Linked DNA regions of Homo sapiens. The protein of the gene in region 3 purifies or fractionates together with the protein of the main gene of each other region. This does not show direct contact. Each region holds a gene or a part of one and is shown on either strand. Other genes may lie near its edges.

Evidence for each region.
Region 1: the proteins of SCFD2 (region 3) and NBAS purify together in Homo sapiens (affinity purification with mass spectrometry; 2 studies listed by BioGRID and IntAct, with this or other methods). This does not show direct contact.
Region 2: the proteins of SCFD2 (region 3) and HS2ST1 purify together in Homo sapiens (affinity purification with mass spectrometry; one large-scale study listed by BioGRID and IntAct). This does not show direct contact.

The regions. Positions count from the first base shown.
Region 1 is NC_000002.12:15,166,389-15,170,003, forward strand, and holds the end of NBAS (NBAS subunit of NRZ tethering complex), read right to left. Parts: intron 936-3,615; coding exon 660-935; 3' UTR 528-659; downstream 1-527. UniProt on the Homo sapiens protein: Involved in Golgi-to-endoplasmic reticulum (ER) retrograde transport; the function is proposed to depend on its association in the NRZ complex which is believed to play a role in SNARE assembly at the ER. Required for normal embryonic development.
Region 2 is NC_000001.11:87,106,596-87,110,350, forward strand, and holds the end of HS2ST1 (heparan sulfate 2-O-sulfotransferase 1), read left to right. Parts: 3' UTR 1-3,387; downstream 3,388-3,755. UniProt on the Homo sapiens protein: Catalyzes the transfer of a sulfo group from 3'-phospho-5'-adenylyl sulfate (PAPS) to the 2-OH position of iduronic acid (IdoA) or glucuronic acid (GlcA) within the heparan sulfate (HS) chain and participates in HS biosynthesis.
Region 3 is NC_000004.12:53,138,948-53,142,602, reverse strand, and holds part of SCFD2 (sec1 family domain-containing protein 2), read left to right. Parts: intron 1-3,655. UniProt on the Homo sapiens protein: May be involved in protein transport.

The DNA.
Region 1 (3,615 bases), on a different chromosome or scaffold from region 3:
ATGTATTGGTCCTGATCATCTGGCTATGCCCTGAAGGTCATAATTCATATACTGTGACACTAGTGAGTGGGACAGAGAGTTAATATTTCTTCAGCTCCGGCTGTGTATCTGATAGAGCCTCACACACACAACCCCACATAATACTTATCAACTTTACGAGACAAATAATACCACCCTTATTTTTCTACAAAATAGACATAGGTTCAAAGAGGTGGAAGAATTTGCCCGAGGTCATTTAACTAATCTGAAACTTGAGTCCAGGTCCACCCTCCCTCCACCCATGACACCTGCCTTGACCGCCAGGCATTCTGCACACTCCCTCCCTTCCTAATGCCACCCCATCCACCAGCACATCCAACTTGCTGAACTACAGTTGTGGACACATTATAAACTGAATTCTATCCAGAAAAGGCAGGTTGAAATAAAAAAGGAGGGTGGGAAGGAAGAGTCTCTTAATCAATAAGAAAATATGTTCACCACTCAGTACAAGAAAGAAAAAAAAGGTTAAAAAAGCGGCAGCTTGCTCATCGTTTCCATACAGTTTTATTTGCAATTTGTTGGAACCATGGAGAACAATCGGCAGATACACATGTTGCTTCTGGGAACAGCATTCAACTCCAGATGCTTTTTCTGCTAAGGAGCAGGGCCACAGGTGGCCCTCACACCCAGTGCTGTGCTGCGCGGAGGGCTGTACTGAAGGTTCTGAAGGCCTGGTGAGTCCCCCTCACGGCCAGAAGGAGAGACCCGGCTTCGGCTTCATGGCCGGCCTCCCGCAGGTGTCTGCCCAGCTCCTCTGCATCCCAGCGCCCTTGCTGGAGGCTAGCCAAGAGGTGGTCAACAATACGTGGATAGAAGGGAGTGGAGACACACTTCACCAGCAGCTTGGCATCCAGGAGCAGGGAAAGAAGTTCTTGGTCACAATTGGAATCATTCACCTTCAAGAAATAAGACAGGCACAGCGTGAGGGGGTGTTTGCTTTGTTCGCCTCCCCCTTGGATCCCTCGCTCTCCACTGGGCTGCCTTCATCATCATTCATGCCCTGGCCTGGGTTTAAAAGCGTGTGTGGGTCACGAGCACCTCTGAGGTAGGTCACAGATTGGGATGACAGACGGGGCTCCTCTTAACATAAGAAGACACAAGAACCCCACTGCAATCATCACTACAGCTTCCAGATACTGGGTGCCAGAAACTATTCAACACTGTACCAGCATCTCTTCACCAAGGCCTTCTGATTCAACCCCGTGACTGGCACTTTTACCTCCCAATTGACAGAAAAGGAAACTGAGGTGTAGCAACTTTGCTTAACATTGTAACCAGTTGTAGAGCCAGATTGTAAATTTGGGTCAATCTTGACATCAAAGTCTGTGCTCTTAACAACCACATTTACTGTTTCATTTGTACTTTCACTGTGATCCACATTCTTTAATGCTGTATCTTTCTTGAATATAAATACACATGAAAAAAATTTTTTTGGAACAAGAAAACCTTTTTTGTACTCCATTGAGAGAAGAGTATGTCCCTCAAGCCCACTGATACGAGTAAGATAACCAACAGTGGGGTTTTAAACTATTTTTGCTTCAGCCTCTAGGAAGCTCAGTACCAACCTTGCCTTTTAAAAAACGGTTTCATAGGTTCTTTCAGTTTGCGTATTCTCTTTCTCCCTGGTCTTGTCTTCTAAATATATGTATTATTTTCAATATTTTTTTAAAGAATCAAGTCCACACTGATCATATTATCAAAATTCGGAGCTTCTCACTTACATTGGGGTATCATAAAACAGATTCCTGACAGGCTTTTCTTAACGTTACTGTGCCTTTTTAATAATTTGGATTGTAGGACTCTCAGAAATAATGTCAAAGCCAATTAACTAACGTTTAGACCAACTATATTATGCAACTGTACACAATGTGCTCTTCCTGCATGTTCTGTGACAAGGAAGAAAGGCTATTGAAGATGCGAAGGTCAACTGTGTCTACTTGTCTACTGACTGTGAGAATTAAAGCAAGAGAAGTACTGAGAATAAAATCCTGCCCACTATCGGATAGCGTGAATCTTTCCTACTACCCACAGGGGTCATTCAAAACCCAATGTAAACATCACCTCCAATGCCATCTTCTTGCTGACATTTTCTTTAACTCTCTTGGCCAATACTTGGGAGTATGACCAAGGATTCCTCCTTCCTCCATACTCCCAAGATGCCTGAGATCTGCCTCTTCATGCTGTATGATAAGTAATTTTATTTTATTTATTTCTTTTTTGAGATGGAGTTTTACTCTTGTTGCCCAGGCTAGAGTGCAGTGGTGCAATCTCGGCTCACTGCAACCTCCTCCTCTTGGGTTCAAGCGGTTCTCCTGCCTCATCCTCCCAAGTAACTGGGATTACAGGTGCATGGCACCACGCCTGGCTAATTTTTTGTATTTATTAGAGATGGTGTTTCACCATGTTGGTCAGGCTGGTCTCGAACTCCTGACCTCAGGTGATCCACTCACTTTGGCCTCCCAAAGGGCTGGGATTACAGGCGTGGCCACCGTGCCCGGCCTGTATGATAGTAATTTGTATGTCTGTCTCCCTTACCGACTGGGAAATTCTTGAAGGCACAGAAGTTTTATCACTTTTACATTTCAGCTCCCCATTTCATTAACATTTGTTAAATGGCTGAGTGAACCTACATTATGAAACTTTGTCACATTTTTGTAAACTGCACAAGTACACGATAAAGACCCTACCTCTCAGAGAGACTGAATAGAACTAGACTCCAGAACAGAAGACCCTCTCTGCAAACCCTCAGTGTCTTTTCTCCGGCCTCCCAATTCATGAACACTTGTACAGCCCACCTTTGACCCCACCTTTGACCCAAAACACTTAGGTTGAACTCCAGGAATTTACCTTTGTTTTTGTTTTTAGGAGCTAGATGACAGAAAAAGCCACCGGTTCAATGGACTTGCTTTTGTGCTGGAAGGGGCACGGAGCTTTGACTTCTCCTCGCTGGGGCTGCCTGTGAGTTCTGAATGCCTTCTTTCCATCCCACTTCTCTCCCTGTCTCTTCATGCCTAGCAAACAAGAGTCTCAACCCCACAGAGCTCCTGCCCTCAGCAGCACGGTGTCTACGTGCCAGAACCCTGAGAGGCCCTTGAAGTCTTCAGACATCCCTTCAAGACAGTTCTCACCTCCTCTGACAGAGGCAGGTTCAGTGAGGTCAAGTGTGATACAGTTGCTCCATGGTGGAGTGGCCTAGAAGCCCGTGTCTCGGCCTAGTTTACTTGTTTATTGTTTGTTTCCCTCCAGAACACAAGTTCCTATGGAGCAGAGATCTTGTCTCTTCTGTTCACCCCTGTATCCCCATGTCCAGAATGGGTGGTCACATGCTAGGAGCTGAGCAAGATTTGTGGAATGAATACCCAAGTGAATGAATCACTCCAAAGCTCACATTCTTTCAGTCTGTGTGGCTGCCTCCAGCCACGTGCATGCACATGCTAATGCGTGCACACACACAGGGCATCTGAGTTACTGTATGTGTTATCTTGGTTCATCCTTCAAAACAAAGAATCCCCCTGCCTAACCCTGCAGGACAGAACAGTGTGTGCCAGGATGCTACAGGCACATGTTTGATAAGAT
Region 2 (3,755 bases), on a different chromosome or scaffold from region 3:
TAAAAGAATGACAGAACAATCATCTTAGCACCCTTTCCTCACAATAATATAAAAATATTAAAAGAACATAGGCAGGCTTTTTTTAAATTTGGCTTTTTTCTTTCCTTTTTTCAAATTGACTTTTATAGGTATTTCCTGAAAGTGTATACAAATTATTTCCTCGCCCAAAATAAAGCACCACTTCAAGGTGTGGTTTGACATTACATGCTAATGAACAAACCCAGTATGCAAGTTATTCTTGCACCACATGCTCAAATCTTCTTGAGGTGCATTAACTCTTTTAGGTAACTAGAGCAGTACTTGGTGAACTAGATCAGGAGGTCAGTAAACTTTCTGTGGAAGGGCCAGAGAGTAAATATTTTAGGCTTTGCAGCCCATACGGTCTCTGTCACAGCTAGTCAACCCTGCCATTTTACCACAAAAGCAGCAATAGACATTATGTAAACAAATGAGCACAGTTATGTTCCAATAAAACTTTATTTACAAAAACAGATGACATCCCAGATGCAGACCATGGGCAACCAACCATTGCACTGGCCAAATCATTATTTATGGAGAAATCCTCTTTGTGTCTCTACTCTAGATGCCTAAAAGAGTTTATATACTTCTAAAAGCTCCTAACTTATATCCAAAGAATTGCTTTCTGATTCGTGTAGTCTCTCCCACAGATTCATAAACTTTTATGACTTATATTGTTTCCAGGTGGGCATGGTTTATTTCCCAGTTTAACAGTTCAGAATAGGGGCATTTATTTTATCATATTTTAGGGTGGGTTAGGAGTATCCTTTCTGGAGACTGAGAAAGGGGTGTATTTAATTCCATCAGGTCCAGTACAGTACTAGGAGTCATAATACTTTATAATCAATTAAATAAATAGAACCACTGAGACAATAATGTATTTTTTTAAAGTGGCAAATGTGGTTTTCTTTTTTCAGCCTTTGCGCTTTTTCAGTATTTTGACCATAGGGAGATAATTTTTTTATAATACAAAAGTAACCACTTGGAATTTTAAAGATAATGTTATGTGTGTATGTGAAATATATATACATATATATATATATGTTTATTTCCTAAAAGAAGAAAAGATACCTTTCTGTTCAACTTGTATCAACTCCTCTTTTCTAATTGCTGTGAAATGGCAACTGTTGATAAATTATTGTGATTGTTTTAAAATCTAATGGGAAGTAAAATATATTTTGATTTTACCCAGCTTAATCTGTAAAGTAGCACTTAAATATATCTGATAGCAACACTTAAGATATTGCATGGGGATTACTTTCCTATCATCCATATGCATTTGTGCAACTTCAAACATATTGGGTGCTTCTGAATTCCTGATGATTGGATTTAAGCTATTGAAAATTGGATAATTTAAACTTAATGATTTTTATAATTTTCTGATCTTAAAATTTGGTTAATGCCTATAATCTGTTGCTTTTTCTCAATATGTGTCCTATTGGAAATTCCTCAAATCGTTGGTGCCATCAGTGATTTACAAACAATATTTTGATATTGCAGATGACTTGCTTACTGTATTTGCATTGTTAGAAAACAGTTTGTAGACAATGATTCTTTTTTAATAAAATCAAATAATTCTAAAAGTGCTAGAGAATTTAACTAAAAGCTGGTTCCCAAATGCATAGCTGGCATTTTAATTTAAATTCAAATCTACATAGAGAACATCTGTGTAAATCATCTAACTGGATTTTTCCATTGGTCATTCCCAAACACACCTATGGTCCTAGAATCCTTAAGAGAAGCACCCTGTAACCTTTTATGTGGTTTGCCTTTAAGAGGCCCAGGTGCTTCTCCTTTATGATTTGAGTTGGCCTCTTCATAAATTAGTGCTGTTTACTTTCAGAGGAAGCAGAGAAGTTGCTGTTATGTTTTTGCATCCGTTTACCCTATGCAAAGTTGCTGTATGATGCCAACTAAACTACTCTTTAGGCAGCCTTCTGAGGAGAAAAGCAACCCTGTTTCAAATCCACTGCCAATTCAGCTCCTCTGGAGTGGAGCTTTCTGATTTCTTGGAGCAGGAATTTTAGAGATTGAAATGAATGATCATTTAGTCAGATTTATCCTGTAATTTCATGCAGCTTTGTGGCCTTTGCAGTACTATTTATAAAATGGACCCTGATGGTGATGAACTCTTTAGAACGCATTACTGTTAAGCCTGTGTTGAGACATTGATGCTGTCTATCTCATTTTTTAGACAGTTTTTGTAGCTTTCTATTGAGAGTCAGGTATGTGAGCATCTCTGAAGCAGTGTTGAATGTAATTTTCGGAAACATGGATTGTGTATTTTGACTTTTATTTTATAAATACACAGCTCAACAGTGCCTTTTTTTTCCCTCATAGTCCTGTTGGAAGATGCTCACTACTTTCTCTCTTCTCTCTCCCTGCCCTCCCCCACTCCATTCAGTTGATTCATTTATGCAAATTCTGTTTCCAACTTGAAACCATTTTGTCACATCTGTTGGAGAGATAATCACTCCTTTTCCTTAACATTCTGCCAGCTTTCTGATGTTGAAGTGTTTCAGTTGACTACCTGATGCAAAAGCTATAAAATAAACAGTGGGAAGGGGAAAAATTGGTGTCCTGTTTTAATATTTTCTTTTGTAGCCTTGACACTGATGGACATTTTCCAAGCTGACTCAGTGTTCAGTGTCAACTTAACTCTCAGATAGTGTTGCCATCAAGAAAGCATGCAACATCATTGGTTTCTAATGATTTTATGGCTTGTGACAATATTTTATCTGGACTGACATGCCTCTGCTGCTTTTGCTTTGTACTTCATTGCTGGTAATAAAATTTCAGATGGAAAACTTACAAAATATATACTTAATTAGAAGAAAAAAATAGAGAAAGGGCTATTAGAATTAAAAAAATTTGAAAGTAACTTAATCTAACATTTATGGCACAGTTTGGACATATCCATAATTTTTTTTGGGAACACACATTTCTGATTTTTTTTTTCCCCCTTAAAGAAGAAAGTCTCAATTCCATTGATTTTCAATTCTTAGCCACTGGCTCATTGCTTTGAGCAATGCTTGATTGATTCTATTTATATTATATGATATTGGGTTGATAAAATACCAGTTCAATGATGAGTTTTCTTAACAGAATTTGGTTTGTACTTGCAGTGGCTGAACAAAGAGCATGGCTTGAGAATCAAAGGGATCTGCATTTAGCAATGTGATGTCAGTAAATGGACATAACAGGATTGTTGTAAAGGTTGGGCATGATGTATGCAAAGTACTGGCCAGGGTAGACTAATAACTGATGGCATTTATATGCTGTGCTGGAATATTGTTACCAAGCTGATGTGCCGTTCTCACCCTGCAGAATACTGGTTTTGTCATTTCATAAATGATATTTTTATAAATATTTTTGAATGACTGTACTTTTTACTGATTATCTTAATACCGCCTCACTTATGTACCTGTAGCATAAATATTCCTGGTTCTGATTCTTGCTGTTCTTTCCACATACAAATCACTCATTTGTACAGATTAAAGGGGGGAAACGCTGACTGTTCTAAAGAAGATAGGACTTGCTTATTCCAGAAATGACTGAGTTCATATCTTAGTATATTTGAACAGTAAGGACTGCTAAATAGTACACACATAAAATTCAGGATCACAGGAATGAAATGATTTGCACTCTTTGAACAGAAAGGACAGCAGCAGTGTAAGGAATAGGCTCTCAAGCTAAAAACTGAGAACATGAAAACCTCTGAGGACCTGACTGCAGTT
Region 3 (3,655 bases):
GGAAAACTGAATTGCCTTCCAAATGTGCTTTGTGTGTGCTGGAACTAGGTTAGCCTGGCTTTTACAGTGAACTTGCCTACAGTTTGCTGTTGGAAAGTTGGCGTAAGGTTTGCACTCATGTTATTCCGATGTACAGTTTTGGCTTTCTTGTTACTGAGTGGCAAAATTTATTGTATGCCTTATGCACATTTTGTGGTTGATGAAAATTTGGTTAAAAAGAATTATTGAAAATAGGGAATCGATTAACAATTGAATAACAATTCTACTTTTTATATAGTGCTTTAGTTTTATAGGTTTGGATAATCTTAAAAGACACATTTCTGAACACCAGCTCCAAGTGTTGATATCTGAAAGATCAAAATCCCTAAAGCCTAAGTTCCTAACATCTAAAATCCTGAAAATCACAAACACAGGGTAGTTGAATCATGTTTGGTGGAACCATTTTCTTGTTATTGTCTTTATTTGGAAATTAAGTATGGTTTAAGAAGATGTGCATGGTTGTCAAGTTGACAAGGGGTGGACTTGTGGACTTAATTTTACTTGTCAACTTGACTGTATTAAAGAATACCTAGAAATCTGGTAAGACATTATTTTGGGTGTGTCTGTGAAGGTGTTTCCAGAGGAAATGAGTGTGTGAGCCTGAGTGGATTTGGTGGGGAAGATCAACCCTCGGTGTTGGTGGGCAGCATCCAAACAGCTGGGGCCGGGATAGAACTATAATAATACAGAAAGCAAATTGGTCTTTCTCTGAGAGCTGGGACAGACTTTTCTTTTGCTGCCTTAGACATCAGAACTCCAGGCTTGCTGGACTTTAGACTCCAGAACTTACATCACTGATCCCCAGAATCCTGAGGCTTCTTCAGCCTGAGCCATGTTACCAACATCCAGTATAAATTGGAGGTATAAAATGTGTAGACTTTCAAAGAGTTCTAACTGATTTAATGTTTTTTTTTTTTTCAAATTTGACTCCACAAATGTACATTATCACAACATTGACTTTGTGTGTAAGCATTGTACATGTATATAAAAGCATTGAAACTTCCTCAGTAAATGAAGAGGTGTCCTTTTCATACATCTGCACTTGTGAAAGACAAAATTTCTCAAAATCTTGGCTCTTGTGGGTAGTGACTCGTTGTGTGTTTTGTTTTGTTTTTTTCCTGTCTCAGCCATTTTGGTTTTTGATCAATCTTGTCAAAAGACAAGAGGTTGTTCATCATAGTAATTCAGATGATTGCAGTTACGTAAAGCTGGGTGCACACAATTACCAATTAGAGAGATATATGTATACATTTCCCTTTTTGACCCTATTTCTCTATAAATATATTTCCTCTCATCTTAACTGTTATACCTCTGTGACTGTCATTAGTATACCTGAGTGTTTATGCTTACAAAAATATAGATTATCATTGGCTGTTTTTTTGTGTAAAGTGGCTTATGGAATGTTCTGTCATGTTGTTTATCAAATAAATCACCTTTTAAAAATGTAAATATCTTTAAAGATTAAAAAATTTTTTTTCCAGAATTATACTTTTAGGATTACAATGTTTAGGATTTCAGCTTTAGGGCTTCTGATCTTTTAGGATTTCAACATTAAGGATTAGGGAGTTCAGGACTGTATCTTTTGGGTATATGATTGGCTACCCTCCATTACCATCTTAACTGTTGATAGGATCAAGAAAGTAACCATTTTTGTATACTAAAAATTTAAGTGTGCTAACATCACCCAACTGATAAACAGTAGAGCCTGGAATTGAGCCCAGGTATTGTGGATCTGTAGCCCATGTCTTTAAACATGATATTCTAAACCTGCCACAACCTCACCTGTGGTAACCATTTCATGTATTATATTCTGTAACTCATGTTTGCTTACATATATCGTTTTATGCCGTGCATGCTCAACCATCCCATTATGTTCTTGTATTCTGAACAGAGAATTAATATTCTGGTTAATATGTTAGATATTGCCTATGCTTATTAATCTGTCTGTATTAGCTACTTATAGATCCTGCCATACCTCCCTATTTTTATGAATGCATCCTCTTTAGTTTCTGCATTGTTATAAAGAAATTAAAGTATCACTTCAAGCCATTGAAATCTATTGGTTGCCCAGCTTTCTAAAACAAGGCTAGGAAACTTAAATTTTATTTCAATAATATCTCTTGACGGTGATTGCCCTGTGGATTAAAATTTATATATATATATATATATATTAGCATTTTTGGTGTTCTTTTTATTTTACTCATACTATTTTTCTTTGGACTCAATCACAATAACAGAATTAAAGATCAAAGTGTAAAAGTTAAAGACCAGTACAGATTCAATAATTATTCTTTTCTACATACTGTGTTTAAATGATATCCCTTTTTCTTTTTGTTCTTTTTTTTTATTTTTTTAGTATTTATTGATCATTCTTGGGTGTTTCTCGGAGAGGGGGATTTGGCAGGGTCATAGGACAATAGTGGAGGGAAGGTCAGCAGATAAACATGTGAACAAAGGTCTCTGGTTTTCCTAGGCAGAGGGCCCTGCCGCCTTCCGCAGTGTTTGTGTCCCTGGGTACTTGAGATTAGGGAGTGGTGATGACTCTTAACGAGCATGCTGCCTTCAAGCATCTGTTTAACAAAGCACATCTTGCACCGCCCTTAATCCATTTAACCCTGAGTGGACACAGCACATGTTTCAGAGAGCAGGGGGTTGGGGGCAAGGTTATAGATTAACAGCATCCCAAGGCAGAAGAATTTTTCTTAGTATAGAACAAAATGGAATCTCCTATGTCTAATTCTTTCCAGACAGACACAGTAACAATCCGATCTCTCTTTCTTTTCCCCACACATCCCCCCTTTCTATTCGACAAAACCACCATCGTCATCATGGCCTGTTCTCAATGAGCTGTTGGGTACACCTCCCAGATGGGGTGGCGGCCGGGCAGAGGGGCTCCTCACTTCCCAGATGGGGCGGCCGGGCAGAGGCGCCCCCCACCTCCCAGACGGGGCAGCAGCCGGGCGGGGGCTGCCCCCCACCTCCCGGACGGGGCGGCTGCCGGGCGGAGGGGCTCCTCACTTCCCAGACGGGGCAGCTGCCGGGCAGAGGGGCTCCTCACTTCTCAGACTGGGCGGCCGGTCAGAGACGCTCCTCACCTCCCAGACGGGGTGGCGGCGGGGCAGAGACACTCCTCACTTCCTAGACAGGATGACGGCCGGCAGCCGGGAAGAGGCGCTCCTCACTTCCCAGACTGGGCGGCTGGGCAGAGGGGCTCCTCACATCCCAGACGATGGGCGGCCGGGCAGAGACGCTCCTCACTTCTTGTGGGGCGGGGTGGCGGCCGGGCAGAGGTTGCAATCTCGGCACTTTGGGAGGCCAAGGCAGGCGGCTGGGAGGTGGAGGTTGTAGCCAGCTGAGATCACACCACTGCACTCCAGCCTGGGCAACATTGAGCACTGAGTGAGCGAGACTCCGTCTGCAATCCCGGCACCTCGGGAGGCCGAGGCTGGCAGATCACTTGCGGTCAGGAGCTGGAGACCAGGCCAGCCAACATGGCGAAACCCCGTCTTCCCAAAAAATACAAAAACCAGTCACGCGTGGCGGCGCGCACCTGCAATCCCAGGCACTTGGCAGGCTGAGGCAGGAGAATCAGGCAGGGAGGTTGCAGTGAGCCGAG